Linked DNA regions of Homo sapiens. The protein of the gene in region 3 purifies or fractionates together with the protein of the main gene of each other region. This does not show direct contact. Each region holds a gene or a part of one and is shown on either strand. Other genes may lie near its edges. The genes, in order: EIF1AX, MIGA1 and NCR3LG1.

The links.
Region 1: the proteins of NCR3LG1 (region 3) and EIF1AX purify together in Homo sapiens (affinity purification with mass spectrometry; 2 studies listed by BioGRID and IntAct, with this or other methods). This does not show direct contact.
Region 2: the proteins of NCR3LG1 (region 3) and MIGA1 purify together in Homo sapiens (affinity purification with mass spectrometry; 2 studies listed by BioGRID and IntAct, with this or other methods). This does not show direct contact.

What each region holds. Positions count from the first base shown.
Region 1 is NC_000023.11:20,128,339-20,131,995, forward strand, and holds part of EIF1AX (eukaryotic translation initiation factor 1A, X-chromosomal), read right to left. Parts: intron 2,270-3,657; coding exon 2,178-2,269; intron 1-2,177. UniProt on the Homo sapiens protein: Component of the 43S pre-initiation complex (43S PIC), which binds to the mRNA cap-proximal region, scans mRNA 5'-untranslated region, and locates the initiation codon. This protein enhances formation of the cap-proximal complex.
Region 2 is NC_000001.11:77,876,845-77,880,197, reverse strand, and holds the end of MIGA1 (mitoguardin 1), read right to left. Parts: 3' UTR 658-3,353; downstream 1-657. UniProt on the Homo sapiens protein: Regulator of mitochondrial fusion: acts by forming homo- and heterodimers at the mitochondrial outer membrane and facilitating the formation of PLD6/MitoPLD dimers. May act by regulating phospholipid metabolism via PLD6/MitoPLD.
Region 3 is NC_000011.10:17,358,150-17,361,806, reverse strand, and holds part of NCR3LG1 (natural cytotoxicity triggering receptor 3 ligand 1 precursor), read right to left. Parts: intron 1-3,657. UniProt on the Homo sapiens protein: Triggers NCR3-dependent natural killer cell activation.

The DNA.
Region 1 (3,657 bases), on a different chromosome or scaffold from region 3:
AGGAAAAAGAATTCTTATATTCCAACAGTCTACTCCATATATAAGGGAGACTTTCACCTCCTTAGGCTATGTGAGAAACAAATCCAGTTTGAAGAAGAAATTCCTATAATTCTGGCCTGCTATAAGTAAATCGTGATGATCTCCTTTGTAATGTTACATGTTATGCAAAATATTCTTAATAAAATTTACTGTCTCCTTCCTTTAATGCTTGTAATTTGAGATTTTTGTATCTCATGGATGGGAGCAGACACAGGAAGCATGATATGATTGATCCCGTTCAGTGTGATACTGACCTAATTCTCCTGAGTCAATCTGGTTATAGTTAAAACATCTATAAACCACCTGGAGAAATGTCTCAAAGAGTAGGGTTCTCAGGTGACAGAGCCAACTTTTACAAAATGTTCAAGAGAACTCCTTTAATAATCACTCTTTACCATCCCTTTTCCAGCCAGCCAGCTGGGTCCAGTTCTGAGGAGGCGTTGGCCCAGATCCAGAAATTTTTACTGAGAAAATCTTGACCACGCCTAGATTCTCAACCCATTATCTTGGTGCATGCGGCTTCATATCCATGCATGTTCTCTGGTTAGGTTCCTTAATTTTTTTTTTTTTTTAAAGAGGCCTTCTACCCCTGCTCAGATGTCAAAATGTTTGGGTTGGCGCTTAATCCACATGTCAGCTGCAAGCTCTTATTTACCAAAGAATAGAATTGTTAATTCTATTGTCAAAATATTAGTAACAGTTTAGTCGTAAGACTCCTCTTGGCTCAGGGTCTCCAAAATTAAGAAAATAACAGAACAACATGTTTATTTCTCACTTCCTATTTTTGTGTACATGTTAAAATGTCTATAATATTAGTAATTTAACTCACAGTGTGAGTATTCTTGGTCAGGAACAACTGCTCTAGGTATTCCGAAATTCCATCTTTGCATCAAATTTAACGTTATTATGTTATTTATGTAGAGACAAAGTCTGGCTATGTTACCCAGGCTGGTCTTGAACTCCTGGGCTCAGGTGATCCTCCCCTATCAGTCTCCTGAGTAGCTGGGACTATGGGTGCATACCACCACATCTGACTTATTATTGTTTTTGGGTTGAAATACACAGGTGGTTTCTGAACTACATTTTAGTTAAAAGAGGTTTGAAAAGAAGAGCCCAAAACAGATTTAAGAGTAACACCCTAATCACTAAATAAATTTATACTGCCAAAAGATTAAGTTTGAATTTCATTCAATTACAGTAACAGCAGAAGTGCAGTAAAGCATTTACACTTATGGGCATTACTACTTTATTATTAGGAAAGACAATCCATTTTCCTCAAAATAAACATACCAACTGCAAACCAAGAGTTTGCCAACAGTACACACCCAACAGCTAAAAATACCATAATTGGCAATAGGCTTCCATTTTGACAAGGCTTTCAGTGTATGTTGTAATTCCAATGCTTCATATCAAGCTGGTTCAAACAAGATTCTTTCAACACACTAATATTTCAATTAAAAAGGCATGTTCCTTTGATAAGATCTATTTTTCAACTGTCCACTAAATTTCTTAATGGCTATCTCTTTAGAGACTCTTAATTAAACAAGTTATGATTAGAGTGGCTGGCGTTAATATTGCCAATGCAAACACTGACCTTTTCAGGAAGAGAAATTGAAGAGGGTTATAAGAATTCTCAAAATAGGGCCGGGCATGGTGGCTCACGCCTGCAACCCCAGCACTTTGGGAGGCCGAGGAGGGCAGATCACCGGAGGTCAGGAGTTCGAGACCAGCCTGGCCAACGTGGTGAAACCTCGTCTCTACTAAAAATACAAAAAATTAGCCAGGCGTGGTGGCACGCGCCTGTAGTCCCAGCTATTCAGGAGGCTGAGGCAGGAGAATCGCTTGAACCCAGGAGGCAGAGATTGCAGTGAGCTGAGATTGTACCACTGCACTCCAGCCTGGGTGACAGAACAAAACTCCATCACAAAAAAAAAAAAAAAAAAAAAAAAAAAAAGAATTCTCAAAATATAAACAGTTTGACCAGGTGTCTTCTAAATAATATTATTTAATTCAGACAATTCTCAAAATACAACCTTATTTAAGTGTCCCATGTTCTTAAAATTAATGGATGTTAGGGGAAAGTTGGTTTCTCCATGGATAATAACAAAAATTGGAAAACACAAGGTACATCTACTTACGTCATCAATATCTTCATCATCATCTCCAATGTCATCAAACTGAATTTCATCATCATCTCCAGGACCAAATGTATCAGTTTCATTGATTTTAGCTAAGGACACAGTAAGAAATACTCATAAGTCAGCACTGTAATTTACTCAAAGTTTCATCATAAGAGCATTCCTTTTATATAAGACAATAACTATAAAGAATATTTTATGAAAAAAAATTCCTGCAGTGTCACTGCTAAGTCAAGATGGGAGTATCTGTGTTACCATTTTCTTTTGTTTGCAAAGGTATTTTTAGTAAGGAAGGCCCTAATTACACTAATTCTGAAGCTATTATAACTTTCAGGTATACTTCTCAACATACAAGGAAATATGGTAACAACGTATTTCCTTAAGAATAGCTGGTTCACTAATCATCAGATAGACTCATCAATCAGAAAGATCTGGTCAAATCATGATTACCCCTAAGCAATGAAAATGAACCAGGAAGCGCTAGTCCTATTCCTATATACATTAACATTTCTTAGATCAGAAATGCTAAGTAATTTCAGCAGGACTTTCATGCTTAAGTAAAATATAACAAAATTATGTTTTTTCTTAAGATACAACAGAGCCAAAAATAATAACTGCCAAGTGAAAATGCAGGCCTACAGAACAGTATGTCAAGTACATTTCCCCTTTGATGAGGTTATAAGGGACTTATTTTTAGGTTTTCTGCGTTAAGAATTCATTACTTTTGTATTTGGAAGGGTGAAAACCAAGAAATGTTGCTTTTAAAAAATCCTATGGGATACTATTATACAACGATAAAATGGAAATATAACTTTTTAATAAAAATCAGTAATGAGGCCGGGCATGGTGGTTCACGCCTGAAATCCGAGCACTTTGGTAGGCAGAGGTGGGTGGATCATCTGAGGTCAGGAGTTTGAGACTAGCCTGACCAACATGGTGAAACCCCGTCTCTACTAAAACTACAAAATTAGCCGGGCATGGTGGTGCATGCCTGTAATCTCAGCTGCTTTGGAGGCTGAGAATCGCTTGAACCTGGGAGGCAGAGGTTGCAGTGAGCCAAGACTGCACCACTGCACTCCAGCCTGGGCAAAAGAGTGAGACTCCATTTCAAAACAAACAAACAAAATCAGTAACTGTACCTAATTACTTGCCCTTGCTTCATGGTTTTTTTTTTTTTTTTTTTTTAATTTTTTTTGAGACAAGGTCTCACTTTGTCACTCAGGCTCGAGTATAGTGGCATGATCATAGGTCACTGCATCCTTGAACTCTTGGACTCAAGCAATCCTCCCGTCTTGGCCTCCCAAGTAGCTGAGACTACAGGCATGTGCCACCATGCCCGGCTGACTTGCACTTCGTGTTTAACCCATATGCGCACTGACAGTCTCTCGAGGAAGGAATTTTAATAGATACTATAACAAAATTATTCCTTTAGTTAGCATTATGTGGAAGTCCAAAGCTTACAGAACTCCTCACCATATTT
Region 2 (3,353 bases), on a different chromosome or scaffold from region 3:
GTAATGATGCATATACATCAATATATCAATATAAGTTTATATTATGCTTGATGGCATTATCATCCAAACACTTAAATTAAAATACAAGTATTTTCACTTTATTCATCACAAAACTGTCTTTTTCCCCATATCAGTACATGGAGAAACAATAAATTTTTAATCTTTGTTTTCATTTTTTATTTTTTTGAGACAGAGTTTCGCTCTTGTTGCCCAGGCTGGAGTGCAATGGTGCACTCTTGGCTCACTGCGACCTCTGCCTCCCAGGTTCAAGCGATTCTCCTGCCTCAGCCTCCCAAGTAGCTGGGATTACAGGTGCCCACCACCATGCCCAGATAATTTTTGTATTTTTAGTAGAGACGGGGTTTCACCATGTTGGCCAGGCTGGTCTCGAACTCCTGACCTCAGATGATCCACCCGCCTCGGCCTCCTAAAGTGCTGGGATTACAGGCATGAGCCACCGCACCCGGCCTTTTATTTTTTATTTTAATGATAAAGTTTTATATTTGATTATAATGCTTCTGCAGTTGTCCTGTTCTCTATGCCATATATATGGGTCTTATGGAGACTGAATATTCTCATACAGGATCTGATGAGACAAGTGTGACTTCATAATTATATATTAACATTGTTTAAAATATTCAATACATCAGCAAGACGTACCATCACTTTTTTATTTGGCAGTAATAGTAATACATCCATGTTACAGTGCTTATTTTGGCTAAAGAGCCAGTGCAATTTTTTCTGCTACTGTAGTGTTTTACTTTTACACAAATTAATGAGTACAGTCCTTACATTTAGGAGACAGAAACATTTACTGACATCAGCTAAGTAAAGCTAATACATGGTTGTTCACAAACTAAACAAAACAATAACATAATATACTCATTAGGAACAAAGTAGGGATGTTCTTATTTCCACTAATCACAGATTATATAAATTCTTAAATTTCACATACATATTTCTAAATCTAAGCAAAAAAATTAGAATTCAGCTTAATTCCTATAATCATTTTGAAATTTACATCAAATAATTTCTGAATATATATTCACATTAAAATAAAAGTAAATGGGTTATATAAACATAATTTAAAATTTCTGATTATGAAAAGTTATAGAGAAGTACATTAAATGTTACTTTGGCATTCCTATTTCCTAGGCTTACAGGAATTATTAAGAATTCCTTTGTAATGCAAATAATCACTCTCTTGGAAATTAAATTTAAGTAGAAAATGTTACATTTTAAGGCAAGAAAACATTTGTAAATATTTTTATAAAGGCATTTAATTCAACAAATTAACGGAATCATAGTAAATGGATGCAAATAAAGAATATTACTTTATGAGAAAGACAAAGTTCTTTGGAGCTTACTGTGACAGTATGGAAAACTTGTCTTCTTTTTTAAAAGATAATTCCATTTTGATACTTAATAAACATAATGTTAACCTTCAAGAAGAAATAAGCACTCTTAGTTGAACAAAAATGTAGGGAAATTAAAATACAAAAAATGAAATTAAAAGAAATACCAAATGTAAATTGCCTCAAAATTTATCTTCTTTCTTCTAGAAAAAAGGATATTTTCTCAGGAGTGACTTAATTGAAGTCCCTCTTATAATTTACATATGGAAGTGGATGGTAGAGCTCATGGTGGCAAGGGCAATTCCATGATTAAGTGTTTAAACAGGGTTTACCCTAAAAGGCTCTAAACTAATCATTTTTAAAGACATTGCTTTTGCTATTTAACCCAATTTTAAGGCAAATGGAAACCGTTACATATGTCTTTTTTTTTTTTTTTTTTTTTTTTTTTGAGACAGAGTTTTACTCTTGTTGCCCAGGCTGGAGTGCAATGGCACGATCTCGGCTAACTGCAACCTCCGCCTCCCGGGTTCAAGCGATTCTCCTGCCTCAGCCTCTCGAGTAGCTGGGATTACAGGCATGCGCCACCATGCCTGGCTAATTTTTGTATTTTTAGTAGAGATGGGGTTTCACCATGTTGGTCAGGCTGGTCTCAAACTCCTGACCTCAGGTTATCTGCCCACTTGGGCCTCCCAAAGTGCTGGGATTACAGGCGTGAGCCACTGCTCCTGGCCTGTTATATATGTCTTAAGTACCCTTCTGCATGCAGTCAGAAATGTTCTTTTCAAGAGGACATTTCCTTTAAAAAGTTCAAGTTTCTTATCTTACGATAAAGAGATATTTCCTATACTTATTGTCCTAAAATTCTATTTGGTCACTCTTACCTCTTTTGTGAAAGGCCACATCTTGCTAAAGTAGCAGCTACTGAACTGACCAGAAACAAACTCAAACACTGAATTTGACAAACCAACCTGCTGAATATAAGCAACTTTTTCTAAGATGAAATGTAAAAAAGAAAAAGAAAAAACAAAAAGCAACACCTTCTAGAAAGCCATTCATCTTATCTCATAAAATTAATTCCCCAGAGTTATCTCATGTAGTAGCAGCATTATCAAATAGTGCAATTCTTCAAAATTGATTTCAAATAATATCTTTCTAAAATAAATTACATTTACTTACAGCTTTGCTTATAAAACCACAGCTTAAAACACTTAGCCCTCAAATGGGTAAATTACTATAAGCAATAACTGTCTTGTCTACATGGTAATGAAATGCACGTGCACGCACACATGTGTGTGTGAAGGCCAAAGATACCGCAACAAGGTAAAAACATGTAATATTAAATAAAAAGTAAACAGTACATAATGGAATTTTTAGTTTTGGTACTTCTAATCATATTCCCGTCAATAATAAGAACTATAAATAGGTAATTGTTAAATTAAGCATCTATGTAAGAAAAGGCAAGGAGCTATATACTAAAGAACAGTGATAATTTGTATGTTTCATGCTATATAACCTATAAAGTACATGCAAAACAGCATGATCCTGAATTCCATATTTTATAGTTAATTTACATAAATGTGGCACATACAGAAAATTACAAATCTTAAAAGATTATGCTTTTCCCGCCCACTTTTTTCATCTTCTATTTATTAATCAGAAACTAGGCACTTTAATCTAAAAATTCGCTTTTTAAAAATGCATTTTAGGAGTAAGACATGGTGACACATGCCTCTGGTATGAGGAGTTGGAGACTGCAGTGAGCTATGTATGATAGCACACTGCACTCCAGCCTGGGCAATAGAGCGAGACCCCATCTCTTAAAAGAAGGCAAAAAACAATGCATTTTAGGTCCTTTTGTGCAACTCACTCCTAAAATGACTAAAGCCCGTTTTAGGGGCAAAATCAACAAATCTCATCTACTTACATACTGAGTTAGTCACTCCAAATAAGTGGTATATTATTTAGAAACAAAATTAATACAACTCTGAAAGCATTTAA
Region 3 (3,657 bases):
TGGAAGAAATAAAACTGTATTTTTAACAGACAGCCTGATTTATGTAGAAAAATCTCAAGACTTGGCCAAAAACAAAAACAAAAACAAAAACAAAAAAATCCCTAGAATGAATAAGTGATTAAAGCAAGTTGCAGGATACAAAGTTAATAAGCAAAAATCAATTATTTGACAGGAATGAACAATTGAGCAACTGGAATTTGAAATTAAAAATATAATACCATTGGCCAGGTGTGGTGGCTCACATCTGTAATCCCAGCACTTTGGGAGGCCGAAGCTGGTGGATCATTTGAGGTCAGGTGTTTGAGACCAGCCTGGCCAACTTGGTGACCCGTCTCTACTAAAAATACAAAAATTAGCCAGGCGTGGTGGCGCATGCCCGTAATCCCAGCTACTCGGGAGGCTGAGGTAGGAGAATTGCTTGAACCCAGGAGGCAGAGGTTGCAATGAGCTGAGATTGTACCACTGCACTCCAGCCTGGGCAACACAGCGAGACTCTGTCTCAAAAAAAAAAAAAAAATGTCAATTTTTCCCAACTTGATCTCTAGATTCAATGCAATCCCAGTCAAAATCCCGGAAAGCCATTTTGCAGATATCAACAGATTCTCAAATTTGTATGGAAAGAAAAAACCCAGATAGCTAACACTATACTGAAGAAAGGCAACAAAAATGAGGGACTAACACTACCTGACTTCCAGACTTACTACTAAAATACAATAATCAAGATAGTGTGGTACTGGGGAAAGAAGAGGGAGATCAATGAAACTGAATAGGGCAGGGTGTGGTGGCTCACACCTATAATCCCAACACTTTGGGAGGCTGAGACGGGGGAGATCACTCGAGCTCAGAAGTTCCAGACCAGCCTGGGCTACACGGCGAAACTCTATCTCTACAAAAATACAAAAATTGGCTGGGAGCGGTGGCGCGAGCCTGTAGCACAAGCTACTCGGAAAGCTGAGATGGTAGGATTGCCAGGGCCCAGGAGGCAGAGGCTGCAGTGAGCCAAGATTGTGTCACTGTACTCCAGCCTGTATTAAAAGAAAAAAAGAAAAAGAAAAGAAACTGAATAGAAAGCCCAGAAATGGACCCACACAAATATATTCAACTGATCTTTGACAAAGAAGCAAAGGCAATTCAATGGAGAAAGGACAGTCTTTTCAACAAATGATGCTGGAACAATTAGGTGTTCATATGCAAAAAAAAAAAAAATACATATAGAATATAGACACAAACCTTACACTTTTCACAAAAATTAAAGTAAACTGCATCATAGACCTAAATGTCAATGGTAAAACTATAAACCTTCTAGATGATAACACAGGAGAAAATCTAGGTAGCCTTGGGTTTGGTGATGAGCTTTAGGACACAATGTTAAGAGCATGATCCATGAAAGAAAAATGTAGTAAGTTCGACTTTTTAAAATTAAGAACTTCTGCTCTACAAAAGACATTGTTAAGAGAATGAAAAGACAAGCCACAGACTGTGAGAAAATATCTGTGAGACATCTATCTGATAAAGGCTTGTATCCAGAATGTACAAAGGACTCTTAAAACACAACAATTTAAAAAATGAGCCCAGTTAAAAAATAGGCAAACAATCTGAACAAACATCTCATCAAAGAAGACATACAATTCCCAGTACTTTGGGAGGCCGAGACACGCAGATCATTTGAGCCCAGGAGTTCAAGACCAGCCTGGGCAACACAGCAAAACCCTATCTCTACAAAAAATACAAAAATTAGCCAGGCATGGTGATGTGCACCTGTAGTCCTAGCTACTTGGGAGGCTGAAGCCTGGGAGAATCACCTGAGCCTGGGAAGTGAGCTGTAATCACACCACTGCACTCCAGCCTGGACAACCAATGAACACACAAAAAAAGAAGACATACGAATGGCAAGTAAGAATATGAAAAGATGTCCAACATTATATCATTAGGGAACTGCTAATTAAAACAACAAATGAGATACCACTATATACTTATTAAAATGGCTAAAATCTGGGCTGGGTATGGTGGTTCATGCCTGTAATCCCAGTACTTTGGGAAGCTGAGGTGGGCAGATCATCTGAGGTCAGGAGTTCAAGACCAGCCTGGCCAACATGGTGAGACCCCATCTCTACTAAAAATACAAAAATTAGCCAGGCGTGGTGGCGGGCACCTGTAATCCTAGTTACCTGGGAGGCTAAGGCAGGAGAATCGCTTAAACCTGGGAGGTGGAGGTTGCAGTAAGCCAAGGTCACACCACTGCACTCCGGCCTGGGCAACAGAGCAAGACTGTCTCAAAAAAAAAATCTCAAAAAAAAAAAAAAAAGGAATTGCCAAAAAGCACTGTACTCTAGTAGATAAAGTTGTTTCTTATCGGAGTACAGGTTAATAATTAATTCAATAAACAGAGGATGGTGGGTACAGGTTTCTCACTGTTGGAGTGGGAGTTTACAGATGAGCAAGAGAAGGAAACTAGAATGATCTATGTGGTGATGGACTAAAGTTGGAGACATCAGTAAGAACAAATGTTTAATGTAATATAGGTACAGATGGTTACACATAGAAATATTTGTAGATATGTGTATATGCAGAGGTTAGTATGCATACATGTATTTCTTTGCTCTGTTGGCTGAGAGGGTCTAGAATCAATGATACCTCAGCAGCAAAAAGTACACTTACTGTCCAGGTCTTGGTTTCTAAGATCACTTTCCAATAAAAGGAACCAAGGTTTCTTGGAGTATTGGTTGGTTCTAGGACTAGAACCAGGAAATATACAAGAGAGGAAATATACAAGATGAGTCTGGAGCATCTTATAGTGCCAAAATGTAAAAAGTGCTTAAAATCAAACAAAATTCTTGATATGAATTTGCCAAAAATTAAATAAAACAAAAAATAAAATAATAAAACAAAACAAAATCTTACAATGATTGGGGTATGTCAATGTGACACAAGAGCCAAGTGAATGAGCTCCCCGTGGCCAAAGCTGGAAAAATTTGAGAAAAAATAAAGTAGTATTGCATTATAACACAAAGTATAAAATAAATATCCTTGAGTCCTTATTGATATCAATGATTGAATAAAGTCATAAATGGGAGAAAAGAGATAAATCTCCCATGCAGAAGAATTCTTAAAAAAATTATGTAGATACTCCACCTCCAAGGAGGAAGAACATAAGTAACCCCCAACCTTAAGTGTGGGCTGCACAGAGTGACTTCCTTTCAAAGAGTACAGTATGAAAATAGGAGGAAGAGTAACTTTTCAGTAGAGAAACCAGACAAACACTACTTCAACTAGATGGTCAAGGTCAACATCAACAGTCATAAGTCATGTGATTTGATGTGATGAAAATGGCAGTTTACCTCTGCGATGTTCCTCCAAAAACCCATAACCCCAAGTCCAATTATGAGGAAAACAGCAGACAAATCCTAACTTAGTGACATCCTGCAATATACCTGACCAATACCCTCACCAAACTGTCAAGGACATCAAAAATAAGGTCTAAGAAATTGTCACAGCAAAAAGGAGCCTAAGAACATATAACAATTAAATGCAATGTGGTATTCTGACGGGATCCTGGAGCAGGAAAAGGACATTAGGTAAAAACTAAGGAAATATGAATAAATTACACACTTTCATTATAGTAAAATGTCAATATGGGTTCATTAATTATATCAAGGT